Homo sapiens: one gene and its partners. The protein of the gene in region 2 interacts with the protein of the main gene of each other region in a pairwise test. Each region holds a gene or a part of one and is shown on either strand. Other genes may lie near its edges.

Region 1 (4,102 bases), on a different chromosome or scaffold from region 2:
TGGGGGTGTCTATCCAGGGGGGTGGGAGAAACAGGAAGCAGGGCAGGAGAGGAGGGAGCAGGGGCTGCTTTAGACAGGGCAGTCAGGGGAGGCTTCCTGGAGGAGGTGGGCCTCTGTGAATAGGGCAAGTCCTGGGTTTCCGGAGGGAAGGGGGCCCTGCAGAAGTGAGGGCAAGTGGGTGTGGCTGGAGCCAAGTGATGGGGAAGGCCGGTTGTCTCTCTGTAGAGCCCGCGGAGCTGAGCAGCGGGGAGACGGAAGAGTTACAGAGGATCAAGTGGCACCGAAAGCAGCTCCTGGAGGACATCCAGGTGAGTGCACACTCGTGTCCACACACGTGTCCATGCCCACACTCCTGCACGCTTGTACGCACCCCACCAGCTCCTGACCCAGCCTGGTCAACAGACAGTGTGGCCAACTCTGGCTCATATCAGCCTCGGCCCCAGCCCCAGGAGCAGGGAGAACAACAAGACTGCAGACACCCCGAGACCCAGGGAGAACTGGGAGAGCCGGGGAGGGAGGCAGCGATCCAATTAGGCGCCCACCGTGTGCCGATCCTCATCCTGGCCTTTACTTGCTTTGTCACAGGGCAGGCTCTGACCCCTGTGGTGAAGCTTCAGCCAGGTCTCACCCCTGCAGAGTGTAGACCACCTGGTCAAGATAACTCCCAGTATGTGCCCTGCACTTACCACTTCACCAATCAGACTCAGACGTCAGCTCATCTGGGTCAGCAGCTTCTGAGACAGGCTGGGTTCTGTTCCTGGAACGTGCCTTGCTCAGCACTGCCCCTGGGCCTTTGCACTCGCAGTCCCCTCTGCCTGGGCTGCAGTGGCTGTGCCCACCCCCACTCCCATGCACATAAACTTAGGATTTCAGTGAGGAAATGAAGGCACAAAATTATTCACTCAGCTGCTGTTTCATTGAGCACCTACTATATGCCAGGATTTCTCTACCTTGCTCTGATGGTGTTCTGCATAGTCATTCCAATTACCCTATGACCACCCATGATCCCAGCCCCACCAGACTGTGCCCTCCATGAACACAGAGCCGAGGTCTGTCTTGCCCACCACTGCATCCCCAGCCCGCTGGGTGCAGCATTAATAGGTGCTCAGTTAATACTTGCAAATGAATCCCCATTGTATTTGTGGGGCAACCACTCAGTGGCTCTGCCAAGATGGCATGAACAGGAGCTGACACGGCTCAGACACAGGCTCCCAAGTCCCATGCTGGCCCTGAGTCTCAGGACAAGTCCCTGGAACCAGCCCCTCACCAGCACCCTGCAGATCCTGGGGAGAAAGGGGCTGGGTGCCTAATGGGGGTGCCGGCCAGAGGCTCATGCTGGTGTCCTTCAGGGGGTGCTGGTGGTTGGCAGGGGGAGGTGTTAGGGGGTCCCCTCTGCCACTGGGTGCCTCCTGCAGGGTCAAGATGAAATGGGCTTGGGGTCGAGTTGGGGGAAGCACAGGTTTGGAGTCAGACTGCGGGCGTGTCGTGTCATCTCTCTACGCCTCAGTGTCCTCTTCTGTAAAGTCCAGGGGAATTGCAAAGTCCCTGGAAAGAGGGCCTAGGCTGCCTGTGCGTGGTGTCCCCGTAGTACCTGGCAGGCACATAGCGGGCACTTAGTCAAGGGTGAGCAACATAGTAAATGGAGGAAAGCCAGAGAGAAGCTGAGGAAGCAGTAGGGAGCCATGGGAGGGGTTTGAGCAGGGGAAGGGCAGGCTCCATGCAGTGCTCCAGAAAGACACCAGCCGGGAGAGGCAGGCAGGGTGGAGGCGGGCAGGGTGGAGGTGGGCTGGGGGAGGTGGGCAGGGTGGAGGCGGGCGGGGGGTGCAGGCAGGGTGGAGGTGGGCAGGGTGGAGGCGGGCAGGGTGGAGGTGGGCTGGGGGAGGTGGGCAGTGGGGAGGCCGGCTTGTCGGGTAGGCTCGGCTAGAGTGCAGGAGACTTCATGGCTGCAGAGAGGAGAGATGGGAAGGTTGGAAAAAGGATGGGCAAGGGATGGGGGCTTGGGGAATCCCACTCCCCAAGACAAGTGGAGGCATGGGTGCAGACAGAGGTGATAGTTTAGCATGCGACTTAGAAATTATGAGACATCCAGGGAGGGGACCTGTCCATGGAGGGTCCCTCAGACTGGGGACTCAGGACAGAGGTCAGGGAGAGGGGCCAGGTTTGAGAGTCGTGCCCAGGGGTAGGAGTGGTCCTTGTGGTCTCAAACCCCCGGGGTTCTGGCCTCCACCCCTGACTCTCCCTGTCCTGCCCCTGCCACCCCACAGAAGCTGAAGGATGAGATTGCAGATGTGTTTGCCCAAATCGACTGCTTCGAGAGTGCGGAGGAGAGGTGAGGGGCTTGGGTGGGGACCCCCAGAAACTGCCATGGTTGCTTCCCAAGGATGTCATACACCTTGAATGAGCAGGGGCCACTCCCAGCCCCCTGGACCTGGTGAAATCAGGGATTGGCCAGGGAGAAGGAGGCAGCAACGAGACCGGAACAGGGTGGCCCCGGCCCCATCCCGGGTCTGGTCCCTGCTCCCAGGCTGACCCTCTCTTGAGAGACACTGCGTCCTCCCCTCCCCCAACCCAAAGTCTCTCCTGACCCACTGTGGTCCAGCCCTGACCGATCACTGGCCACATCCACCCTGGGATGGGCGGGGAGAAGGGAAGCTCAGCCCCAAGGGCAAGGACAAGGAAGCCCAGGGCCCCAGGAGGACAGGAGCCTGGCCCTACCCCACCCCACTCACCACTAACCCCGGGCCAGCCACGCCCACCGCCTCTGTGGAAAACTCCCACTATTTTGTGATCTGGGACAGATCCTGTCCCTCTCTGGGTCTCAGTTTCCCCATCTGTGCAACAAGAAGGTTGGTTGCTACACAGTCTCCTAAGGCCCCAGTGCACTGACTCTGACACACGATGTCCTGGCAATTTCCCATCCTGCGCCCGCCACTCCTTAGGTCTCCACCTGTCCAGCCTCCTCCCCTCCCCCACCACACACATGCACACACACACACGCATGCACACACACACAAGCATGCACACACACACAAGCATGCACACACACACAAGCATGCACACACACGAGTGGCCGTTTCTCCAGCTCCCCTGTTCCAGCCACAACAATGACAACATAACACACCTACGCCTCACTGTTTTAGGTGCTTTAACCTCTCAACAATGCTGGGAGGCAGGTGGTGGTATCACCTCCATTTTATAGATGAGGAACCTGAGGCCCAGAGAGAGGAAGTGACTCGCCCAAAGCAGCCCGGCTCAGATTCGCATCCAGGAGCCTGGCTCCAGCACCTGCGTGCTCAGCCCTCGCCCCCTCCCCCGGTTTCTTGCACAGGGCCCCTCCACCTTCTCCCACACGGCAGCTCCGGGTTCCTGCAAGCTGCTAAATGCCCGTGCTGGGCCCATCAGAGAAGTCAGCTGCAGAGCTCTGGGAGGAGCCAGGCCTTGCACTGCTCTCTCCCGCCCAGGTGGTTCCCATGCAGGACCCGGAGGCCACACTTGGAGGGCCCTAGAGGGGTATGGGCTCCTGCTGAGGCAAGGGTCCTTGGGGAGTGGAGAGGGTAATTCAGGGTCCTGGGGCAGCCCAAGCTGACGTCCTCATGTCCACAGCCGGATGGCCCAGAAGGAGAAGGAGCTGTGTATTGGGCGCAAGAAGTTCAACATGGACCCCGCCAAGGTAGGTGGCTGTGGAGGGCCCGGGCCACAGGGTGTGGGGGCTGCATGGGAGCACCTGCCTGGTGTCCTCTCGCTCCCCTCGGCTGACACGACCCCTTTCCAGAGGAGGAAGCTGTGCCCAGCAGAGCTGAGCATCTTGTCCAGTGCCCCATGGCCAGCTGTGGCTGGGCGCCCTGTCTACTCCCAGGCATACACGCCTTGGGGCAGGAGGAGCCAGGAGCATGGAGGAGGCCACGGTGTCCATGCACTTGGCCTAGTCCCTTCCCCACTCTGGGCCTCCATTTCCTTCTCCATGAATGTGGCTTGGGACAGTGGAGCTCTTGGATCTGGGGCTTAGGCTCCAGAAGCATCTTCCAGCCCTGGGCTCAGGGAGGGCCAGTCCTGCGGTCCCACCACCCACCCCTCTGCTAGTAGGAGCAGCAGCTCAGGGCTG
Region 2 (4,102 bases):
AGATGTTTCAAAATGTGTTAATTCTAATACTGGGAAGGTTATATAAAATCGGGTACTCAGGGTACTGGCGTATCCTTCAGAAAGAGTATACTCAACAAAATACAAAAAAAAATTTATCTGACCCAATACTTCAACTACTCGAAGTTTATTCTAGCAAGACAAGCATAATTGGGGAAGTACACAAAAATGTATGTACAAGGATGTTCATCATAGTGTTTATATTAAGAAAACAGGAAGCCAAAATGCCCTTTAGAGGACTGGTTAGGTAAATGATGCTATGTATTACAGCAGCAAAAACAGAAGACAAAAAAATTTTTTGTTAATTAAATACAAAAATCATTATGCATATAGCTTAGATCTCCTTGATAATACATAATGTATAGTTACAGAAAAACAGATACCAAAGTCCTACTTACATAAAACTGCATGAGTGTATGTATAAACATGTACTGATTGTTTTCACTACAGAAAAACTAAAGCCACTTTTAATTTGGGAGAAAAATTTTTAAAAGGCATGAGAGCAGCTAAGAGATTAAAGACAGAGAGGTTAGTGCAGACAGCGGTTGACACCAAGGGAAAGAGCTGTGGACCTTGCTGTCCTGAAGGTTTCAATATGGAGCACTGCTCTCCAGGTCCCTGCATCCACCAACACAGAAGACAGTAAAGGAAGTCTCCTGAGACATTAGCAGAGGCTCTGGACTTAGGGGACCAGGCTCTAGAGTGGCAAAGGGTAGGAGCAAAACACATGAAATGGAAAGTTGATGTAAACAAAACACAGACCTTCAGCCCCCTTCCTCCTCTGAGGCCTAAAAAGCTGCCAACCGGGCTTCTCTTCCTGTAGTCCCACCTCACCTCAGGAAAAAAGATTAAAGAAATTCTTCATCTGAAGAAAATGCTGCTTACTTAAGCACCCAGTTAACGGCTGTCAGTTGACAAGCCATGTCAACAAGGACTTTCATAATCAAATTTTGGTACAAGACTCTTCAATGTGAATGGACAGCAAAAAAAAAAAAAAAAAAAAAAAAATCAGAGATTTGAAGGAAGCCTCTAACATAGAAGACAGAGGCCAAAAATGAACACATAACATGAAAAAAAAAACATTCTGATGAAATACAGAAAACTGCAAAGAAAGTAAACAGGATTTTTTTTAAAAAGACAAAAAATAAGTACAAGCTCTTGGAAATTAATGACACCAGAAATAAAAGCAATCAGTAAAGGATGAAAAGCTAAAATTAAGGAAATCTTCATAAAGTAGAACAAAAAAGACAGACATGGATAACATGGGGAGTCAAAAATAAAGTACCGGGTCATAATCCAGGTGGTTGTGGAGAAGGTGCAGAGGGGTAGGGGAGGAGGAGAGGAAAGAAGGTGGAGAAAGAGGATAAAACAAATAAGAAACTCTAGGCAAGGAACATCACTATACAATTTCAGAACACCAGGGTAAAGAAAAGATCCTAAAAGCAAAGTCTCAAAAAGGTCCCGTTTTGTTTTTTTCAGAAATCTTTTAGGAGGTAAGCCTCTAAAATAAGGAAATAAATCAAGAAAGAGGAGAACACAGGATGTGGGGGAATCTCAGGATGGCAGTGGTCCATCCTGGAGCAAGGGGAAAAGGGATCCACCTAGTATGTGAGGTCTGACAACCAGATGAATTGTACTCAGAGAATGTACAAGGAACTGACAAAAAGTTTAAAGAAATCTGAGCCAATTAGAGATAGTTAACTTAAGAAAAAAATAAAAACGAGTTACACAAGAAAGAAAATATTAATGCATGCTACTTGGCGCAACAAAGATCAATATCTATCTGGTCATAATAAAAACATTAAAGGTCTATGTTACCAAAAGTGTAATGTGTTAAAGGAGGATGCTAATGAGGAAGAGGACACAAAAGAGCTAAGAACCATCATCTACCAGAACAAAACACCAAAAGATATCTCAAAAGAGTGCAGTACAAATACAGAGTTTTGGAAAATGGAGGTAAGTACCAGGAAATACAGGTAAAAGAGCTGAAAACTGTCTTAGGGCAATGGAAAAAAAAGATAGAGGACTGCTTTATTATTCACACAAATTCCTCTATAAAATAAAAATTAGTTTAAAGAACACTTAAAAGCCAACCAGACAGACAAGCTTAGAAAGACAGTTCTAGAGACACCTGAGGTTGTCACCAAAACTAGCAACACTGTTACATGGAAATCAAAGAACAGGGCTCTGAAGTGAAACAAAAGCCAAACCTGAATCTTAGGTCTGCTGCTTAGTAGGTATCAGCTTTCCCAGATTAGACTCTCTAACTCTCGGAAAAACTCAAAGGATGCTGTCTGGCCTGCTGAAATTCAATGGCAGCTCAGCTATTTTTAATGTTGCTAAAATCTGAATCTATTAATCTGACATTAAAGCCAGGCATAATGTAAGTCAAAAAAGACACCAGAAGCATCCAGCTTGCTAAGTTAGGCAAATTAATTTGTAGCTAGACTCTAATTACCCATGTTAAAGGTAATTCATTTCTATTTTTACTATTTCTACACTTTACTTTTTCTCTTGGTTTTCAAGTAAGGTTGAAAGCCTTAAAAAGAAATTGTGTCAACCTAATTTGTCTACGCCTAAACCATGGCAGGTAAAATGATCAGAATGTTCCCCAAGGCTGTGTATGGGGGCGGATGTTAAGAGTCAGAGATAGCGCACGCAAAGAAAACGCTCATGGAACAGAAAGCGATAGGAGTCAACAACCGAGAGGCAGGGCGCTGAAATGAAGCTTGACCCTTTCCTCTTAGAATTTTCCCTCACAGGATTTAGGGTCCCCAGTCCCCTTGCTTTCTTTCTGTGTCCAACTGAGATGTTCTGTGATGTGGCCAGCCGCATGTATTCCCCTGGAGGCTCTGACCCAAGCCAAGGCCTGCCTTGAACATTCCCAGGCGCTGACAATGTTGTTTAGGCTATTGCTTGAAACACTGAGAAATTACCCCTGTTGCTAAACACACAGAAACTATCCCTGGCCCTGAACCAAATTCCTTCAACACTCAAATCAACTCCCTCACCTTGGACACATCTTTTCCTGCTGTCTGCTGAGAGGACTGCTGCAGCACTAAATGCTTTTGACTGATTACCCTGAGATTTAGTGTTCTGGAACCCCAACTAGGTTCGGGGCAGTCCCTTACAGGAATTCCTCTGCCCCTACTTTTAGGGCAACTTCAGCCACAGGTTCAGCCAGAAGGAACACAGAAGATGGGCTTACTCCAATGATATCCTCATCTAGACACTTCTGTAACTTCTTATCTCAATGGACTACTCTAAATGACACAGATGGACTACTTATCCATCTGTGTCAATGGACTACTCTAAGTGACAAAGATCTGTCCTGGGACACTGTACTTGTATTTGATTTTTAGATGCAACCAAAAGCCAATCCAAATGAGAACATTTGGATTGCAAATGAGAACAAATGGATTGGAACATTTGGATGGAAAACATTGGTGCCCATGTGGCGTAATGCAGCTCTGGAACAAAAATGGGATGGAATATTAAGTAACAAGACTTAATATTCTCAGGGAATCCTGGTCTGACTCTGACAAAATCAGAGAGGTGTTTCAAAAAGTTCTGAAAACACTGGAGTAGATGCTTATTATTAATTACCCCAAATGACTTCTAGAACCGTTAAAGAACTTTTTTGAAGTGTATTTGTTAATAAAAAAATTTTCAATACTCAGAATCACATTTAGGTCAAGCTTTCTAGGTCCGATTTCTTTCTATAAGATAAAAATGCCTAATTATTTACTACTAACTCATGCAAGTTCCTGAGAAAATAGCAAAATAACTGGCTGCTCAACATTCACTATTAGAGCTTCAATGTGCCTTTGGAGGTCATACATTAGCTTCAGTTTCTTCATCACTTTCATTATCAGAAATGAAATGAGAATTGTGTCAGATGGTATTTATGGTTCTTTTCAACTCTAGATGGATACACACATCTAGGGAATAATAACTCCTCCCCCCCACCATTTTCCAGAAAGAAGGAATTCTACCTTCTTCATCAAGTCCACCGATGATGTTGTAAACATAGTATGGAAAGAAGCGCCTTGAATACAGGATTGTAGACAGCATTGCAGCAATT
Region 3 (3,161 bases), on a different chromosome or scaffold from region 2:
TTTTTTGTTCTTGCGATAGTTTACTGAGAATGATGATTTCTAATTTCATCCATGTCCCTACAAAGGACATGAACTCATCATTTTTTATGGCTGCATAGTATTCCATGGTGTATATGTGCCACATTTTCTTAATCCAGTCTATCATTGTTGGACATTTGGGTTGGTTCCAAGTCTTTGCTATTGTGAATAGTGCCGCAATAAACATACGTGTGCATGTGTCTTTATAGCAGCATGATTTATAGACCTTTGGGTATATACCCAGTAATGGGATGGCTGGGTCAAATGTTATTTCTAGTTCTAGATCGACAGGGAGCATTTTCTAAGTGTAGACAACATACCATTTCAAGTGCTTTTGATGGCAACTATTATTTCAAAGAATAAACACTTCATTTTTAGTACTAGTTATATGTATAATCAGAGGTGAAGAAAGTGGAGAAAATAAACCCATCTATCAAAAAAGGATAAAAAATAATATGTGATTTTAGTAGTTGGCTTCCCTTTATTGATCAAATCTTAGGAACTCTTAAAGATAGAGTTTCATAACTAAGTCTATTTAGTTCCAATTCTTCCAACAACATGAGGGGTTCAAATCTCCCCAGAGCTGAGTTCTATAAACAGTAGGAAAGGAGAAATGAACCAAAATGGAATCTTGTCACTAAGGAAAAGAGAAAAGAAAACATGTTTTAGCATTCAACAGCTAAGAAATATTCCTGTTTTATAATCAGCTTTGAGAAACGCCAACAATTGCAGTATATCTGGGTTAAATACGGGACATTTCCAGGGAGTTTTTTAAATTGAAATATCAATATAAAAATAAAAAATGGTTAGGCATCACCCTATCCTGGCTATATAGTCTGAAATCAGAATAAAATTTGGTTAAAGTCAACCATTACGGGTTTAAACTGATTGATGAATTCAAGAGCATAAAAGAGAAGTGAAATAAATAACCAGGACAAAAATATTTATGCTGAAGGAAATAGATTTATTAAGAGACTGACAGAAAATCCCCTTACTACCCACACCCAATTTGTAATACATTAATGTTGATGTAGAAGCTAATAATACATGAGCAGAGCAACCATGGGAGGCAAACTACTTTTTCACTGTTAAAATTCAAGTATGACCAAAAAAATGCATCTTGCTTCCTTTGTCTGTAGATGAGTATCAGTTCAGCACCTGAGTCCTGGGTGACTTGTCCAACAGCATCAAAGACAAAGACCACAGCAAGAAGTCAGCAAGAAGATGGAAGATGTATCACCCAAGCACATGGGAAGGTAGGAAGACAGTCATTGCTCTTCAGGTTGTTCTGTGCAGAGAATTAATTGAGAGTCCTGTAGTCACTGGAGCCATTGGTCCATCAGTAGGTGCTGTAGCCAAAGCCAGAGCCAGAGCCCCATGGCCTATAGAAGCTACCACCATAGCAGCCGCCCAGGTTGTTGATGTTGCTACCACCAAAGCTGTAGCCCAGGGAGCTGTAGCCATTGCATCCACAGCCATAGTTCAGGGGAGAGCCCAGAGGCACAACACAGTTCAAGGGGGTGGCTCTGAAGGTCCCATGGAAGTTGGTCCCATAGATAGGGTATCCTGGGAAGTAGCTTCCACAGCAGAAGTAACGAGTCATGGTGGCAGCAATTGAGAAGGATTTAGATGGATTGTGAAGGGTAAGTTACCCAAGTGTTAATGAAGGTCTCTTCCCGTACAGGGCTTTTTATACCTCAAGCTGGTGGGCACAACACATCTGTCTAAACATCTTCCCACTAATTTGCATAGGTAATCTCATTCTTTTCTAATAAAATGCTTATAAGGAATGCACAGACTCATTGCCCACATTTTTGTTGGCTTTTCTCTGTACTATTTTAAAGCCAGTGACCATGCTTGACACGCAATCGAATTCTTTTCATCAGAGTCCCATAGTTTAACTACTGTTCTTGATTGCATCATGTGAGACTCTTTAAATCCTCTGATTATAAACTCTTCCCAACTGACATAGCTAAACTAAAAAAGCTTTGGCAAGAATGCAAACACTTCAAGCCAAGACAAAGCCATATATTGAGGTCTTTTGAACATTATTTTGAAACATCAAACTGAAATTCTATAACCTCTTGAAATTCACCCATGTGCCCTTTTAAAACAATTGTATACCAACTAGTTAATGGGTACAGAGTTTCCTTTTGGAGTGAAGAAAATCATTTGGAACTAGACAATGTTGCAAAACATTTGGAATGTACTAAATATCACTGAATTGTTACCTTTAAAATGCCTTGGTTTGTGTTATACAAATTTTAACTCAAAATGTATTTTTTATTTTAAAAAGCACTGCTACACAAATCTATCCAACCAGGTGTTTTTACAGAGGCTGCAATGGTGCCAAATAATAAGTTGGCTGTGAATAACCTGCAAGTAATTTTCATCAATTTCATTTATGAGCATTCTGTTTGTTAATACATATTTTATTTTTTCATGGAGAACATACCATGTTTGCTTGTAAATCATCTTGAACATTGCCAAACTGTCTTTCTGGAGTTGCCACACTGGCGCTGAGTGGGATGATGCTCAATTTCAGAGTCATGTTATACCACACTTGCTTCTTACTGACTCCTATAAAACAAGCCTGAATGCCATGATCCATTATGAAATACCAGTTATATTTAAGGATGCAACACTTCCTTCTGCTCTTATTTTGCCTTACATAACCAATTCTCATGAAGAACGTAAACCAGGAAGGATCTGAGCTCAGCAAAGCTAAGTCTATTCCAATTCAAAGGTTTACGACATCATCTTTTTATATGTGAATCAAAGTCAGAATTCTCTGAAAGTAGAAGAAAAAACTTCCTGAATACCAATTCCTTTTTTTATTTCCATCTTAACAGACAATCACAGAGTCCAATATGCAAAACTAATCATTCCTCTCAGACATCCCTCTCTCTTTAAGATTCTATCTCTCTCAGTTTCTCTGACAGAGAGCTGCCTAAAGAATGTTCTATAAGTGGATATGATTTCTTTTATTCTACAAATTAATTAAATGTCATAAGAGTATATAGAGAAAGTTAAAGAAAAATAAGTTATAATTTCAAATTCAGTTTAACAAAAAGAATGAATTAAAATGGTAAGAGGTTGTGTCCTCAGGGTTTAAATTATATAAACTCTGTATCAGATAATCC
Region 4 (4,801 bases), on a different chromosome or scaffold from region 2:
GGCCCTGCTGGGCAGGCCCCAGCAGGGGCCTCAGGAAAGGTCCACGTCAGCTCGCGGTGGGCTCCAGCGTCTGCCTCCCAGGTACAGCACCAGGAGGGAACCCTAAATCCAGCCACTTGATCCAGGTGGGCCACACGGCCACCTCTCAGGCTCTCTGGGGGGCTGCCTGCCGCCCAAGCCTGGCCAGCAGAGCCTATACTGGGACCAAGGCCTTAGCCCAAGGGACACTCACCTCCTCCAGGGTGCTCAGAGACACCCCAGCAGCCACGGACACCAAGATGTGTTCAGTGGTGACCACAGGAGCCACCTCTGCCAGGACAGCTGGCAGCACATGAGGCTTGGTGGCAAAGATGACGAGCAGGCAGCTCTGCAGCACCTCCTGGTTGGAGTGCGTGGTCCGGCAACCCAGAGCCTGCGCCAGGGACACCAGGACCAAGCCTCAGGGGCCATGTAAGCGGCGCACCCTCTCCATCACAGCCCTTCCTGCTGGATGCCACACGTTCCCATGGTCCCAGGGCCTCTCCCATTGCAAGTGTCTAGACCACCCCGACTTCTCCAGTGCCCAAGACTCCCCCAGACTAGCCCTACTCCTCACAGGCCATCCTGATGTCAGCGCCTCCCCAAGCCCTGAGCCCTCCATCCCCAGTGAATGTCTGTGACCACCACCCAGCATGCAAACACACCCATGCACATGCACGCACTCACGAGCATGCATTCATATACACACACGCAGACACATGCACTCACGAGCATACATACACATGTACACATGAATGCACTCATGAGCACAAACACATGCACACACACCCACTCGAGCATGCACTCATGTGTACACGCACGCACTCATACACGCACACACGCACTCATATACACATCTGCACAGGCACACATGCACAAGCACATACGTGCACTCACGACCACACAGGTGCACATGCACTCATGAGCATGCACTCATACACACACGCACACACATGCACTGACATACATGCACTCACCACACGTGCACACGCACACACAAGCGCACGTGCAAACGCACATGAGCACATACATACACACATGCACACGCATAGCCTCACATATACACACGTGCATATACACACACTCACGGACATGCACTCACACATGCATACACACACACACACAAACACTTTGCTTTGGCCCTCCACAACCTTACTTTCCTCCTGGCCTCTAATCTCCCTTTTCCCAGCCCAGACCAGCCAGTCTGCAAACTTCAGCTAAATAAACCACCCATCCCTGGCTCTGATAAGTGTCTTAGTGGGACAGGAGCCAAGAGCTATCCTGGGCTCCTGAGGGTATGAAGAACCTGGGCTCTATGCTCACTTGAAAGTGACATAGGTTCCTGTCTGTTGGTGCACTGGCCAGTATGTGCTGAGCTTCCACTTTTCCTGGAAAGAAAGGAAAAGGAAGAGGGGTTGGTGAAGGGGTGGGATAGGATGGCACGGAGAGGAGAGGGAGCTCACTTGGCCTCTCAGGCTCAGCCACGCCTGGCCCATCCTGGGCCCCCTCCTGGCCCCAGGAACCCAAAGCGGGATGCACCATTCACTGGGCCCAGGCAATCAGATCCACTGATTCTACTTGGCGGTCAACGCCCCTGACTGCTGCTGGGTATGGAGGCCAGGAGCTTACCTCATTGGTGAGGACACAGATCCCTGGGGCCTCTGCCTCCAGGGAAGGGAAGGCTGCCTGGAGCAGAAGAGGCAGTACCTCTGGAGGAACACCAGGCCTTGGGGGAATGTGGTGGGTACAAAGGCAGTTGATTGGCCACAGAAGGCCCAATCGGGGCCCAGGTTCTTCGAGAGGGAGAGTCTATGCTGGAATGTCTAAGAAAAGGCTAAATGCCTACTTGGTAGAAATTATCTGCTTTTGTCGGGTACGGGGTGGAAAGATTGGGTTAGATTTTGGTAAGGTCGAACAGGAAGGCACAAGTGTACACCACAACCTGAACACAGCAATTAATCATGACAGTGGCAGCCAAACACACCAGTACTAAGCTCAACACTAGACATTTATGTCTCATTTAACCTGTACAGCTCTGGGAGGCATGCGGTACTGCCAGGTTTCACAGGGAAGACTCCTGAGACTCATAGTAAGCTATTTCCCGATTGATCTTGACTCTTCTGGACCCTGAAGTATGGCTGAAGGCAGAGAGTCAAAAGTCACCCAGCTCTCCCTATCCACAATCTGCAGAGAGGCTTCTAAATGCCTGGAGGAGTATATGGTCAGCATAAATATTCCGGGTATAAAGCAGTGTTTCTCAACAGGGGATGATTTTGCCTGTCTCCTCCCCCCACCCAGGGGACATTCGGCAGTGTCTGGAGGCATTTTTGGCTGTCACAACGTGGGGGTGCTGCTGGCACAGGATGGATAGTCTGGCCCAGGTGTCCCTAGAGCCAAGGTGTCTGGGGGAGAAGCCCTGCTGCTCCCCATGAGAGGGGCTGGCGCGCAAAGAGAAAATCAGAGGCTGGAAGAGGTGAGCCTGGCCAAGGCCACGCGGCCAGGAAGCCGGCCACGGAAGCGGCACCTAGCCACGTGTGACTCAAATCTTCCCGCAGCCACGTCAAAAAAGTAAGAGCAAACAGGCGTGGCCCCGGCTGCGCCCAGCGGAGCGGAGACCCGGTTGGCTGGGCCCGCGCCCCCGGCCCCACTCTCGCGGCAGGACACCTCCCACGGGGCTGCTCCCACTCCAGACCGCAGGCCTAGCCCCGCGCCGCCCCACCTGCTCTGATGAGGCCCTGCGCGATGGCCCCCGCCATGCGGCCCGCGCCCACGAAGCCCACGCGCCGCGGAGACGGCTCCGCAGCTGCCATCTTGTTGCCTCGGACGCCGCTGCGCTCACCGCCCATCCACAGGCCGCGCCCCGCCCACAGATCTAGGCCCCACCCCCGCCCTCCAATAGGACTCGCCTCCCCGTCCCCACCCTCGCCGATTGGTTACTGGGACGGCACACTCCGGCCGGCTTTTTGTCCGCACTCTACAAGTTCGCAAGGCGCGGGAACCCCGCCTCTCGCTGCTTATTGGCCCGAAAGGGCTATGCCGCCCCTCACTGCCCATTGGCTGAGAGAAACTGGGGGCGGGGCCGTAAGGGGCGGGGCCGGCGGGGTACTCGCGCTCGGAGAGGCCGGAGGAGCGGGGAGGGGTCCCGGTCGCGCGTGCGAGGAGCACATGTTGGTTTTCCGGAGGGGAGGGGTAGCGAAGCGGGTTGCGGGGCTGGTCCAGAGCGTGCGGTCACTGAGGCCCCGCCGACCACAGACGGTGGAGCTGCGGGGAAGCACTAGGGGCGGAGACCCAGGTCACGGAGAGCAGGCCAGGGCCAGGGGCCTGAGACCGACGGAGGGGACAGTCGGGGAGGGGGTACTCGTCACTTTTAATGACACAAGGAAAACAAGGCTTGAAGATCTGAGTGCGGTTTTTTCATCATCCAATCTAAAGCTGCATGTTACATATGTTATTTTCTTTTGAAGCCTTTGACATTTTCTTTTTTCTTTTTTTTGAGACGGAGTCTCGCTCTGTCGCCCAGGCTGGAGTGCAGTGGCGCCATCTGGGCTCGCTGCAAGCTCCGTCTCCCGGGTTCACGCCATTCTCCTGCCTCAGCCTCCCAAGTAGCTGGGACTATAGGCGACCGCCACCACGCCCGGCTTATTTTTTTGTATTTTTAGTAGAGATGGGGTTTCACCTTGTTAGCCAGGATGGTCTCAATCTCCTGACCTCGTGATCCACCTGCCTCGGCCTCCCAAAGTGCTGGGATTACAGGCGTGAGCCACCGTGCCGGCCCAAGCCTTTGACATTTTCTAAGCTCTTCAGTAATGAAATCCTCTCATTGATTCAACATTCACTGTGCAGCTGCAGCCTCTGGGCCCTGCTCTGGGCCTGGGCAAGATCACCCCACGGCAGCAGATGGGACAGGCTGGACCCCACCCTGCAGCCCTGCTTGGTGGCAGTGTAGACAGACTACAGTCAGCACACACGCAGGACAGCCAGTGTGTCAAGGCTCTGAAGCAAATGAGGTGGAAAGGGACAGAAAGCCACCAGGAGGCTGCTTCGGCCACTGCAGCCGAGAAACGTGGGTGGTGGACACTTTGCACCAGCACACAGCGTCAGCAGCTGTATCTCCTGCCACCTCGGATCCTCCCAGCCCCTTCCCACAGACTCCCTGGATTTTCTCCCAGGCCCCCTGGGCCAGTGATGGCTCAGGACCAAGGCTGTGGGGAGGTGAGAGGGGCCAGAGGCATCCAGTGCCATGCCATCATACATAAGGACAAAGCTCATCATAAACAAGTGGACTGAGGCGAGGTGAAGGAGGATTGCTGGCTGAGTGCCCAGGGCCACAGTGGGTAAAAGGAGGCCCAGGGGCCCAGCCCCGTTCAGCTTCTCCGTCCCATGCCGGGCTGGGCTTCTGAGCATCAGCTGGGAGCCCTCAGCTGACGTGGACACCCAGCCAGCCAAGGCTTGTGTCCAGGGCACCTCTCTGCTCTTGGCTGGGCTTCTTCCCACTGTTCACCTGGTGGATCCAAGCAGCCACATAGGCGCCACCCTCTCCAGGAGGCCTTTCCTGAACCCCCACATGGGCAGAGCCTTTATCCACAAAGGGCTGGGGCCAGGGGATACACTGTGAACGAGGCCAACCCGTCTCCTGGAGCTCGAGGTCCTGGGGTGTCAGCGGGAGGGTTAGGGGTTGAGGCGGGGCTCCCAGAGGTTTCCAGACAAACAATCCCAGCAGGGCAGGGTGGATGCTCCGAGAGGCGCTGTGAAGGTGCCATCAGGGAAGGTGTTTTGGAGGCTG
Region 5 (4,180 bases), on a different chromosome or scaffold from region 2:
TACACGCAAGAGCTTGGGTGAATTTTTCTTTTCTGTAAGTAAAAACATTTTTAACTGATGTATGATAACTCTGCATATTTATGGGATACATGTGATATTCTGATACATGCACACGCACACACGATGTAATGATCAAGTCGGGGTATTTAGGATCTCCACCACCTCAAGCATTTATCATTTCTTTTTTTGGGGAACATTTCCTATCTTTTAGCTATTTTGAAATATACAATAAATAATTACCTATAGTCCCTCTACGGTGCTATCAAACACTAGAACTTAATCCTTCTATGCAACTATATGTTTGTCCCCATTAACCTCCCCACCCTCCCCACCTTTCCCAGCGTCTGGTAACCATCATTCTGCTCTACCTCCAAAAGATCAACGTTTTTAGTTTCCACATGAGTGCCAATATGCTTTTCCCAGGTGCAGAGGCTGCTGATTCCTGGATTTGGAAGGTGGGGGAGAGTGGTTTGGATTTCAGTACCTCCCCCTTCCTCAGGGCTAGGCCCTGTCTGGTCACCTCCTGTTGCTACAGGTGTGCCTGGCACAGACATTCAGCTCCCGGGGCCGTGCCGCCCTCACCCCTGCATGCCTCTAGAGGTACCTGTCCCGTGGATTTGACCCCCTTCCAGACACACAAATAGATCACCACTGAGCAGACACAGGGTCACCTCCCAGCTCCCTACCAGGCAAGAGCGACCAGGGCAGGGACTGATACTGCCGAACCCAGGAGCCAGGCCCGACCCAGCCTCAGGTCCAGCAGGTCCCGCCTGTCCACCTGGGCCAGGCCTAGAGCCCGGGAGCCCCTGGCTGGTGGGAGGCCACCCGCAACCCACCCCACACGCAGCTCCAGCTCCCCCACCAGGCGGGGCGACTAGGACAGGGACAGAACCCGTTGAACCCAGGAGTGAGATCCGGCCCCGGGTCCCGCTGGGCCCTCCCGTCCACCTTGGCTGGACCTGGCGCCTGGGAGACCTTGGCTGGCGCGAGGCCACGCCCACCAGACATGCAGTTCCAGCTACCCCACCAGCTGGGCGACCAGGACAGGGACGGAGGCTGCTGAGCCCAGTTAGAGGCCTGCCCCCCGGGGTCTGTCCTGGGCGCTCCCCCAAGGACGGACAGGGCAGGCAGGGTCCGGGACGATGGCCGCACAGTCCCGGCCCCGTGTTCCCAGGCCCGTCTTGCTCCTCGATGTGAGGGAGACCCGGGGGATGGGACAGGCTGGGCCCCGCAGTGCCTGACTCCCTGCAGGGCTCCCGGGACAGGGGTCCGGCGGACAGCCGGCTGCTCAGGGGTGAGGGGTCCAAGCTGGCATTGCGGCCACCTTCCGGCCCGGGCTCTCTTGGGGAGGGGCGGGGTTGGTGAGAACCGGTCACGTGCTCCGGGGCTCACTCGGGGTCTCCCAGGGCCGGAAGTAGGGCCCCTGTGCGCAGGCGCCCTGAGGATCCCGGGCTGCCCATCTCACGCCAGGGGGCGGAACTTCCTGCAGCCTCTCTGCCTCCGCATCCTCGTGGGCCCTGACCTTCTCTCTGAGAGCCGGGCAGAGGCTCCGGAGCCATGCAGGCCGAAGGCCGGGGCACAGGGGGTTCGACGGGCGATGCTGATGGCCCAGGAGGCCCTGGCATTCCTGATGGCCCAGGGGGCAATGCTGGCGGCCCAGGAGAGGCGGGTGCCACGGGCGGCAGAGGTCCCCGGGGCGCAGGGGCAGCAAGGGCCTCGGGGCCGGGAGGAGGCGCCCCGCGGGGTCCGCATGGCGGCGCGGCTTCAGGGCTGAATGGATGCTGCAGATGCGGGGCCAGGGGGCCGGAGAGCCGCCTGCTTGAGTTGTATTCTGTTCTGTTCTGTTCTGTTCTGTTCTGACAGTTCTGGTGGCGAGGTGGGGGCCGGGAGATGGGGAGGGCAGGGCCAGGTGGGGGAGGAGGCGGGGGAGATGCGAGTAAGTGGTTGGGTGGGGGTGGGGGTGGGGGTTGGGAGGTGGGGATATGAGAGGCCAGCTGCGAGGAGGGGAGGAGGTAAGGGCTGGGAGGTAGAGGGGGTGGGGGTGGGGGAGAGGGGCTGGGTGATTGGGTGAGGGGCACCGGGTCATGCGGGGAGGGGAGCAGGGGCCAGGAGATAGGGGGACCCAGGTGTAGGAGGGGATCAGGAGGTGGGGGGAAGGGGGCAAGATGGGAGCGGGTGGCGGGAGGTGGTTGGGATGGAGGGTCGAGTGATGAGGAGGGGGCCGGGTGATGCCACAGGGGGCAGGGTGGGGAGGGGTCTTGTAAGGGCATGGAGGAGTCAGCTTGGGGTGCAGCAAAGGAAAGTGGGGAACCAAGACAGCTGGGTGGGGTGTGCTACTGGGCCAGTGCCTGGGGAGACAGCCTGGGGGGGATGGGCTGGGCAATCCGGGGTAGGGGGGAGGGGTGGGGGAGTGGGGGAGGGGGAAGCTGGCCTGGGGTAAGCAGCAGGCCGGAGCCACAGGCCAAGTCCTAGGAGAGGATGCCTTAACTGGGCCCCCACCAGCTACCTCGCCATGCCTTTCGCGACACCCATGGAAGCAGAGCTGGCCCGCAGGAGCCTGGCCCAGGATGCCCCACCGCTTCCCGTGCCAGGGGTGCTTCTGAAGGAGTTCACTGTGTCCGGCAACATACTGACTATGTCAGTTCAGGACCAGGACAGGGATGGGGCCTGGGTGGGTGGCGGTCACAGCGTGGCAGGGTGGGGGCTGGGATCCGCCTACACCCCACGGTCAGGCTGCTAGAAACCTGGGAACACCCCAGCACAGGGTCTCAGAACAGAGACCTGGTACACCAGGCCCGCCGCCACCCGAGGGAGCCCAGGGAGATGGGTGCAGAGGTGTCGCCTTTAACGTGATGTTCTCTGCCCCTCACATTTAGCCGACTGACTGCTGCAGACCACCGCCAACTGCAGCTCTCCATCAGCTCCTGTCTCCAGCAGCTTTCCCTGTTGATGTGGATCACGCAGTGCTTTCTGCCCGTGTTTTTGGCTCAGCCTCCCTCAGGGCAGAGGCGCTAAGCCCAGCCTGGCGCCCCTTCCTAGGTCATGCCTCCTCCCCTAGGGAATGGTCCCAGCACGAGTGGCCAGTTCATTGTGGGGGCCTGATTGTTTGTCGCTGGAGGAGGACGGCTTACATGTTTGTTTCTGTAGAAAATAAAACTGAGCTACGATTCCGTGTCTGAGTCTCTTTTCGGCGAGCGAAGGCACCTTCGGACTTGCATGCCCTTGTCCTCGGGTTGCAGGGGAGGCTCTGGGATTCACAGATTGAAGTAGCACAAGGTAACGGGAGGCAATTTGGGAAATGGGGGAAAATGAAAAGCCACTGGGTCCCGCCATTCAGCATTAACTACTGTGGACATTTTAGAATATTTTCCTCAATATACTTGCATTTATATGTTAAATATATGACAGTAGCATATATAATGTTTTTCCAGGTCAGCATTAAATTTTTTCCCAAATTGTTTTCATTGAACATATGAGCTTTTTTACTTGGGAAAAATTCTTTGAAAACGTACTTGAATAGATGCATAGAACCAGCATTATCATATCACTGTTAAGCATGTGATATGGGTTGGGCATGGTGGCCCACACCTGTATTTCCAGCACTGTGGGAGGCTTGAAGCGGGAGGATGGCTTGAGACCTGCAGTTGGAGGCCACCCTGGGCAATGTAGCGAGATTCTGTCTGTAGAAAAATCATTAAAAGGCCGGGTGCGGTGGCTCATGCCTGTAATCCCAGCACTTTGGGAGGCCGAGGCGGGCGGATCACCTGAGGTCAGGAGTTGGAGACCAGCCTGGCCAACATAGTGAAACTCCATCTCTACTAAAAATACACACACAAAAAAACAACAACAAAAAAACATTAGCCAGGCGTGGTGGTGTGTGCCTGTGATCCCAGCTACTTGGGAGGCTGAGGCAGGAGAATCACGTGAACCTGGAAGGTGGAGGTTGCAGTGAGCCGAGATGGTGCCACTGCACCCCAGCCTGGGCAACAGAACAAGACTCTGTCTCAAAAAAAAAAAAAAAAAAGAAAGAAAAGAAAAGAAAAAATTAGCAGGGTGTGGTGGTGTGTGCCTGTGATCCCAGCTACTTGGGAGGTTGAGGTAGGAGAATCACTTGAACCCAGGAGGTGGAGGGTGCAGGGAGCCGAGATCATGCCACTGCACTCCAGCCAGGTTGACAGAA
Region 6 (4,102 bases), on a different chromosome or scaffold from region 2:
TGGGCAAGTGCCTCCCTGCTGGGCTTTCTAACTAAATGGGGGCTTCCCTTGGGGAGTCTGAGGATGACTGCAGTGTGTCCCAGTTCTGCTGGGTCACTCCTCTCCCCATAGTGGCGACGGGATCAACCTGCAGGGCTTCTGAAGTTGGACTTGCCTGTAGTTTATCCCTTGTCATTGTGTGATCTTGGGTAAGAAGATTAACCTCTCTGAGCCTCCATTTCCTGTATAAAAGGGGGCAGTGGCATCTCTTTGGCTAGGTTGGTGTGGGGATCAGAGGTGTGGTCTCTGAGCAAAGGTAGCCGATTTATGAGGGGTGATGATGGTGAAGAAGCTATGAGAATATTTATTCATTTAGCCTTGTCACAGAGCAAACTCCCACGCCCACATTTGGGGTCCTTCTTTAGCTAACGATGAAACTAATGATCAGAGCAGTGGCCACCATTGTGGTGGGCTGAGAGGTATGAGGGACCAGGCTAGGTCAGTGGAACTGTGTTGAGGACCAGCTCCCACCCTACTGACAGTGTGACGTTGGGCAAGTCGCTTAGCCCCTGTACTCACTTCTTTTGTCTGGATAAGGGGAATGAGGGCCACGTAAGGAAATATCAGCACTTAACCTCCCGCTTCTGCCTCGGGTTATCTCATCTTTGCTGCACGGGCACCACACAGGGTGAGGTCTACGTGAACACCGCAGAGGGAGCCAAGTCTCAGGACACTGGGGGACTCAGAAGTGGGGCTCCCTGACTCCGGGCCTCAGATGTTGCCCCACGGAGCACACTGACCCTTGTAACGGAAAATGACCTTCCAACAGGGATGGCATGAGAATAAATCAGAAAGCCTTCTTGGTGCTTTTGTTTTTTTTTTTTTTTTGACAGAGTTTCTTTCTTGTTGCCCAGGCTGGAGTGCAATGGCACAATTTTGGCTCACTGCAACATCCGCCTCCTGGGTTCAAGTGATTCTCCTGCCTCAGCCTCCCAAGTAGCTGGGATTACAGGCACCTGCCACCATGCCTGGCTAATTTTTTTGTATTTTTAGTAGAGACAGGGTTTCACCATGTTAACCAGGCTGGTCTCAAACTCCTGACCTCACCTCAGGTGATTTGCCCGCCTCGGCCTCCCAACGTGCTGGGAGTACAGGCGTGAGCCACCGCACCTGGCCCCTTCTTGGTGCTTTTAATGGAAGCACGTCACCGTCATGTCCGTAGTGGCCATTGGTGTTGCTGTAAGTGGAGGCTCAGACAGTGACCCCAGGGCTGGCCACTGGTGGGACCACAGCATCCTGACTCTAGCCCTGGATGCCTTCAGAAAGTATTTTCTTTGCTCATTCTTTTCTGAGGCCAGGTGGACTGTGCAGGGGGCTGTGGATCAGCAGGGAGGGGCAGGGACAGGGAAGGAGCTGTGGGGGCCTCATGCTGTGAAGGGCTGGGTTAGGAAGCCCTGTAGGAGGTGGGACGCAGGAGCGCTTGCAGGGAGTGGCCACAGTCACTATTAGATGCAAAAATAATCACGGTTTTTGCCATTACTTTTGCACCAACCTCATACTGGAAAGTAGAGGAGAAAGGGCCCGTGGTGAAAGCACCTAGAGGCAGTTCAGAGTGTGGGAGGGGCAGCTCCCCAGTGGGGCCGGGGGCATCCCTCCTGCCTTTGATGTTAGTATTGGTTTTCAGAACTGCAACCCGAAGTGTTATGCCTTTCATAAGTCTGTAGAGGTGAATGGACAGAAAGGCTGTTTTTCTTCATTATAACAGTTAACATGTGTGAATGGCACTTAGCAAGTGCCAGGATCTATGCCAGGGGCTTTTGTAAATAAAGTTTTATTAGAACACAGCCACGCCCATTTGTGTATGTATGGTCTGTGGCTGCATTTGTGCCAGACTGGCAGAACTGAGCAGCTGGGGGAGACATCTGGGAAGCCAAAGACATTTACTCCCTGGCCTTTTCCAGGAGGAGTTTGCCTCCCGCTGGTCTGTGCTGTCCCTGGTCTGACTGAACCCATTCAGTCCCAGAGGGAGGCGCACACCTGCATTTCTATTTTATAGATGCGCATAGAGGGGCTCTGAAGCTCGCCAGGGATTATAAAGCGAGTATGTTCCAGAGCAGGGATTTGAAGCCAAGAAGCCCATGTTCTTTTGTGGGGGAGGGGACAGGAGCAGGGAGATTTATATTTTTATTAGCTTCTAATTTAATTTTACCATGTTAAGAGAATGTGTGTGATATCTATTTTCAAAAATTTGTTGACAATTCCTTGATGGCCTAGCACCTGATCATTTTTTAAAATATTTTTTCATCATGGTTAATGTACTAAATATATTAAAATATTTAATCATGGTTAATATATTAACCATTTCTAAGTGTGCAATTCAGTGGCATGAAGTACATCCACACTGTTGAGCAACGAGCGCTACCATCCACCTCTAGAACTCTCTATCATCCTCACCTGCAGCCCACATTCTTCACTGATGCCATGTGCTGTCTTGTGGGAGTTTTGTGGAATAAAACAAATGTTAGTGGCATCACAATTTAGCAGAGAAGGCTTTGACATCAGACTTATGTTTGAGCACCGGCTCTGCCATTTACCGGCTATTCTTGTCCCATTGTCTGCAGCCCCCTGAACCCTCTGCAACTCAGGTTCCTCATTTGGGAAATGGGGATCACCCCAGTCTGGTCCCTGCACATCCCTCGGTTGTGAGGATGAGACTAAAGAACGGAGGTGAAAGGCCTAGTCTAGGATCACGCCGTGGACAGCAGCTGCAGTGGCGGGTCCCTTTGTTGGGCACCACCGCCCACTTGTGTTAGGTCAGCCTGTTCCCCTCTGTGTGGTCTGAGGTGGCCCCTTTATCCTTTCCAGGGCTTGCAAGCATCCTCAGGACCCACTGCACATCCTAAAACTCCCAACTGGCCTGGGAGGACCTGGGTACAGGCTGCCTGCTCTCCTGTCTCCCACCGTGGCTTAGACTGGCTGAAGGGCCACTTTAAGGAATGAAAGGGGTTCTGTGTGCACCAGCCAGGGACTGCCAGTGGGTGCTCATTGTGGCAGAAATACCCTTATGCCTGCCAGGTCAGAGGGAGGCGCTGGCTCGGTGTGCTGGCCTCTGAGCTTCTCCCTTGGCTGCATTTTGAGTCAGGAGCCTGGACTGACCCGGGTCCCTCCACAGCACTGGAGGGGGTGGGACACATCACTACAGGGTTTCCTTCCATGAGGACTCTGAGGAGTTGACAGTGGAGGCAAGGAGTGAGCTGGTAAGTAGCTTTCCACTATCTTTTACCCTTGGAGCTTCTGTCTCCTGTCTTCTCTCACCCTATCCTGTTGCATCTGGTGGCTGGTCACCCCTCTCTGCTTGTTCTGACATGGGACTGTATTGAATGAGATCACAACCTGTGTCTTCCATTGAAGCAATTCTTTTTCCCCTTCTTTTTCTTAAAAAAATTGAGGTGAAATTCATTTACTGTAAACCGTTTTCAATGGTACAATTCGGTGGCATTTACTGCATTCACGATGTTGTGCAACTGTCACCTCAATCTAGCTGCAAAACATTTTCCTCCCTCCGGAACAAACCCTGTGCCCATGGGCAGTCATTCCTCACTTCCCCTCTCCCAGCCCCGGCATCCATCCATCTGCCCTCTGTCTCCTTGGATTTGCCTGTTCTGGATATTTCACAGATGTAGAACCAGATCGTATGTGGCTGGCTTCTTCCACTTAGCCTGATATTTTCAGGGTTCACCCATGTTATAGCAAGTGTCATCAAGTGTCATTGCTTCCTTCTTCTTCATGGCGGAGTAGTATTCCATGGTGCGTATACAACACAATGGTCTATTCATCTGTGGATGGACATTGGGGTCGTTCTCACCTTTGCGGCTGGTGTTGGAAGCAGTGCTCAGGGTGTTAACATTTTCTTCCCAGGGCTTTGGCTGCTCAGGTCCTATTCTGCAGGCTCTTCCACCCTCTCCTCCCCTGCTCACTAATGCATCAGTTCAGCCTCCCATGATCAGCATCGTGCTGGGGGCTCCCAGCCTTGACTTGTCCTTGAAACCTGCAGAATGGTTGTCGGCTCCTCATTTTCCAAGCAAGAGCATGGGAGCACCCCGAGGCAGGAGGGACGATGCGG
Region 7 (4,102 bases), on a different chromosome or scaffold from region 2:
TGAGACCCTGTCTCAAAAAAAAAAAAAAAAAGAATAAAAAAAAGATTAAGAAAATTTATGCTGGCGGGGCGCAGTGGCTTATGCGTGTAATCCCAGCACTTTGGGAGGCCGAGGCGGGGGGATCACCTGAGGTCAGGAGTTTGAGACCAGCCTGGCAAACATGGTAAAACCCCATTTCTAATAAAAATACAAAAATTAGCAGGCTGTGGTGGAGCGCACCTGTGGTCCCATCTGCTTGGGAGGCAAGGCAGGAGAATCACTTGAACCTGGGAGGCGGAGGTTGCAATGAGCTGAGATCACACCACTGTGTTCCAACTTGGGTGACAGAGCAAGACTCTGTCTCAAAAAAAAAAAAAAAATTTATGCTGATGAAAAGGGGGAATTTTCTTGTGTTCCCATACTCTCCATATCCTTTTCCTTCATGTTTAGGATGCTATCATCAATAGATGTAATGACTGTAATTGCAGCAGCCATCCCGAATCCAAGAGGAAAAGGCCAAAGTTTCTACTTAATCAAAAAGAATGTCCTGACCTTTTATCCAACTCATTTTAAAGATTAAGAAATTAACCAAAATCCCATAATGCTTTTCAAATTTATGTTAAAAATATGTTACTAAAAGCTTACTGCCCTAACAAAAATGCAATTATTGCTTCTCTAGAACATTTACTTTTGTACTGATTTCTAAAAAAGATGTGGGATTACTAACAGCACACATTTACAGTTTTTTTTCCCACTTTAAAGTTAATTCTAAATAGAAATTGCTTAAGAATCTAGAAATTGGTGGCGCAGTGGCTCACACCTGTAATCCCAGCACTTTAGGTGGCCAAGGCAGGAGATCAAGACCATGCTGGCTAACACGGTAAAACCCCGTCTCTACTAAAAATACAAAAAAATTAGCCAGACATGGTGGCGGGCGCCTGTAGTCCCAGCTACTCGGGAGGCTGAGGCAGGACAATGGCGTGAACCTGGGAGGCGGAGCTTGCAGTGAGCCGAGATGGTGCCACTGCACTCCAGCTCCAGCCTGGGCGAAAGAGCAAGACTCCGTCTCAAAGAAAAAAAAAAAGAATCTAAAAATTGAGGCTGGGCATGGTGATTAATGCCTGTAATCTTAACATTTTGGGAAGCCCAGGCAGGAGAATCACTTGAACCCAGGAGGTGCAGGTTGCAGTGAGCTGAGATCATGCCATTGCACTTCCAGCCTGGGTGACAGAGTGAGACTCCGTCTTTAAAAAAAGAGAATGATCAATCCATCTCAGGATCTCAGGTATATATTTTGTGTTGGAAATTTGCAATGAAGAACAAATGGTATACCTAATGCACAGTGAGCAACCCATGGTAAAGGACTGGCTGATAAGTTTTATTGTTTAGTCAACCATAACTCAGCTAAAAACATCTATCTAAGCATAAGAAATGAGAAAAAGCGGCCGGGCGCGGTGGCTCATGCCTGTAATCCCAGCACCTTAGGAGGCCAAGGCGGGCGGATCACGAGGTCAAGGAGATCGAGACCATCCTGGCTAACACAGTGAAACCCCGTCTCTACTAAAAATACAAAAAATTAGCCAAGCGTGGTGGTGGGCGCCTGTAGTTCCAGCTACTTGGGAGGCTGAGGCAGGAGAATGGTGTGAACCCAGGGGGTGAAGCTTACAGTGAACCAAGATCACGTCACTGCACTCCAGCCTGGGCGCCACAGCAAGACTCCATCTCAAAAAAAAAAAAAAAAAAAAAGACATGAGAAAAAGGAAACCTTTTAGTTTTATGAAAGGAAAATAAGCTTTTGAGTTAAGACATGCTCAAATCTCAGCTCTTCCACCTCTTTGAGCCCTAGTTTTCTTAAACTATATTAAGAACTCAGTGATATAAGCATAATGCCTACATAAACTAGGTTGTCAATGCTTGTTTTTGTTTTTTAATGGTCAAGGAAAGACTTCTAAGGATGTTTCAGTTTCTTGTAATAAGTAAAAAAGCTTAAGTTAAAAGTGCAATTTATTAGGAAAATAATGAAATAGCCAATGTAATTCATGAGAAAGGATAACCAGTAGGGTAGTTTTTCTGACACTATGAGGCTACATGATCATTATTTTTACTTTTCTCTGTGTCTGCTTCATGTTTTACTGCAGAGAAGACTTCCCTGCAGCTACATGCATCACATGGGAAATAGCTATCCCATACATAGAGCTTTCACTTCCAAACTTCAACACTAGTACTATCTACACGTAACTGGTATTTCTGGGCCCTTGTTTCAAATTCCTAAGGTAGAAAACTGGTTGGCTTAGTTTGGGTCAGGTATCCATTTTTCTTTTTTTTTTTTTTTTTGAGACAGAGTCTCGCTCTGTTGCCAGGCTGGAGTGCAGTGGCGCGATCTTGGTTCACTGCAACCTCTGACTCCCCGGTTCAAGTGATTCTCCTGCCTCAGCCTCCCAAGTAGCTAGGATTACAGGCATGCGCCACCATGCCCAGCTAATTTTTTTTGTATTTTTAGTAGAGACGGGGTTTCCCATGTTGGCCAGGATGATCTCGATCTCCTGACCTCATGATCTGCCCACCTCGGCCTCCCAAAGTACTGGGGTTACAGGCGTGAGCTACCACGCCCAGCACCGTTTTTGGTTTTTAAGAGACAGGGTCTTGCTCTGCTCCCCATGCTAGAATACAGTGACACAATCATAGCTCACTGTAACCTTGAACTCCTGGGCTGTAGCTATCCTCCCACCTTAGCCTCCAGAGTAGCTAGGACTACAGGCATACACCACCATACACAGTTAATATTTTAAATTTTTTGTAGAGACAGAGTCTTGCTATGTTGCCTAGGCTGGTCTCAAACTCCTAAGCTCAAACAATCCTCCAACTCAGCCTTCCAAAGTGCTGAGATTACAGGCATGACCCACCATGCCTGGCCAGGTATTCATTCTTGATCCAGTACCTGGGAGTGGGAATCACACATGATACAAATCACACATGATACAAATATACAAGGCCCCACCTATTAGAGGGAGAGAGAGGCTGGGCACAAACCCAAAAGGTATCTACTGCAACATTATTTTGCAAAAGCTTGCCTTCTAGAATGTTCTTTTTATCTTTTATTTATTTTTATTTTTTCTGAGACAGAGTCTAGCTCTGTCACCCAGGCTGAAGTGCAGTGGCTTGATCTTGGCTCACTGCAACCTCCGCCTCCTGGGTTCAAGCAATTCTTCTGCCTCACCTCCCGAGTAGCTGCGACCACAGGCGTGTGCCACCACACTTGGCTTATTTTCGTATTTTAAATGGAGATGGGGTTCCACCATGTTGGCCAAGCTGGTCTCGAACTCCTGACCTCAGGTGAACCCCCGACCTCAGCCTCCCAAAGTGCTGGGATTACAGGCGTGAGCCACTGCACCCGGCCCATAAGGGAGCAGTTTGAGATGGGAGGCTTCACCATGTTGCCTAGGCTGGTCTCAAACACCAAGATTCAAGTGATCCTCCTGCCTCAGCCTCCTGGGTAGCTAGAATTACAGGCACACACCACCACATCTGGCAACAAGTTTCTTTAATGAAAGAATACCCTCTGAATTTTCCCATGGTATGACTTTTAAGATATGGTATGATAAGACATGGAAGATAATCATAATGTTATAAGATTATATTTTGGTCCCACTGCTTTTTTTTTTTTTTGTCACCCAAAGTGGAATGCAGTGGTATGATCACAGCAAAATGTAACCTTGAACTCCTGGGCTCAGGTGATCCTCCCACCTCAGCCTCCCAAGTAACTGGGACTATAGGGGCACGCCGCCACATCCAGCTAATTTTTTAAAATTTTGTATAAAAAAAAAACAGGAGTCTCACTATATTGCCCATGGAGGTCTTGAACTCCTGCCCTCAAGCAGTCCTCCCACCTTGGCCTCACAAAGCATTGGCATTACAGGCGCGAGCCATCACACCTGGCCCACTGCTATCTTTTTGTCAAAGACAGTGCCTGACTTTAGCATCTTTTTGGTACAAACACTTTGTCTTTTTTCTTTTTTTTTTTTTTGAGACAGAGTCTTGTTCTGTCACCCAGGCTGGAGTGTAGTGGTGCAATCTCAGCTCACTGTGCAACCTCCACCTCTCAGGTTGAAGCAATTCTCTTGCC

Evidence for each region.
Region 1: the proteins of PSMB1 (region 2) and CYTH4 interact in binary tests that used the Homo sapiens proteins (3 or more experiments, as listed by UniProt).
Region 3: the proteins of PSMB1 (region 2) and KRTAP7-1 interact in binary tests that used the Homo sapiens proteins (3 or more experiments, as listed by UniProt).
Region 4: the proteins of PSMB1 (region 2) and PYCR3 interact in binary tests that used the Homo sapiens proteins (3 or more experiments, as listed by UniProt).
Region 5: the proteins of PSMB1 (region 2) and CTAG1A interact in binary tests that used the Homo sapiens proteins (3 or more experiments, as listed by UniProt).
Region 6: the proteins of PSMB1 (region 2) and JAKMIP1 interact in binary tests that used the Homo sapiens proteins (3 or more experiments, as listed by UniProt).
Region 7: the proteins of PSMB1 (region 2) and OIP5 interact in binary tests that used the Homo sapiens proteins (3 or more experiments, as listed by UniProt).

Annotation. Positions count from the first base shown.
Region 1 is NC_000022.11:37,292,396-37,296,497, forward strand, and holds part of CYTH4 (cytohesin-4), read left to right. Parts: intron 1-206; exon of another isoform or gene 207-225; coding exon 226-308; intron 309-2,264; coding exon 2,265-2,329; intron 2,330-3,603; coding exon 3,604-3,670; intron 3,671-4,102. UniProt on the Homo sapiens protein: Promotes guanine-nucleotide exchange on ARF1 and ARF5. Promotes the activation of ARF factors through replacement of GDP with GTP.
Region 2 is NC_000006.12:170,539,588-170,543,689, forward strand, and holds part of PSMB1 (proteasome subunit beta type-1), read right to left. Parts: coding exon 4,014-4,102; intron 1-4,013. UniProt on the Homo sapiens protein: Non-catalytic component of the 20S core proteasome complex involved in the proteolytic degradation of most intracellular proteins. This complex plays numerous essential roles within the cell by associating with different regulatory particles.
Region 3 is NC_000021.9:30,828,078-30,831,238, forward strand, and holds KRTAP7-1 (keratin-associated protein 7-1), read right to left. Parts: upstream 1,683-3,161; 5' UTR 1,622-1,682; coding exon 1,358-1,621; 3' UTR 962-1,357; downstream 1-961. UniProt on the Homo sapiens protein: In the hair cortex, hair keratin intermediate filaments are embedded in an interfilamentous matrix, consisting of hair keratin-associated proteins (KRTAP), which are essential for the formation of a rigid and resistant hair shaft through their extensive disulfide bond cross-linking with abundant cysteine residues of hair keratins.
Region 4 is NC_000008.11:143,606,721-143,611,521, forward strand, and holds the start of PYCR3 (pyrroline-5-carboxylate reductase 3), read right to left. Parts: upstream 2,856-4,801; 5' UTR 2,829-2,855; coding exon 2,738-2,828; intron 2,157-2,737; exon of another isoform or gene 2,044-2,156; intron 1,407-2,043; coding exon 1,342-1,406; intron 413-1,341; coding exon 233-412; intron 1-232.
Region 5 is NC_000023.11:154,583,650-154,587,829, forward strand, and holds CTAG1A (cancer/testis antigen 1), read left to right. Parts: upstream 1-1,483; 5' UTR 1,484-1,557; coding exon 1,558-1,826; intron 1,827-2,502; coding exon 2,503-2,637; intron 2,638-2,876; coding exon 2,877-3,015; 3' UTR 3,016-3,167; downstream 3,168-4,180.
Region 6 is NC_000004.12:6,193,625-6,197,726, reverse strand, and holds part of JAKMIP1 (janus kinase and microtubule-interacting protein 1), read left to right. Parts: intron 1-3,107; exon of another isoform or gene 3,108-3,236; intron 3,237-4,102. UniProt on the Homo sapiens protein: Associates with microtubules and may play a role in the microtubule-dependent transport of the GABA-B receptor. May play a role in JAK1 signaling and regulate microtubule cytoskeleton rearrangements.
Region 7 is NC_000015.10:41,315,086-41,319,187, forward strand, and holds part of OIP5 (protein Mis18-beta), read right to left. Parts: intron 1-4,102. UniProt on the Homo sapiens protein: Required for recruitment of CENPA to centromeres and normal chromosome segregation during mitosis.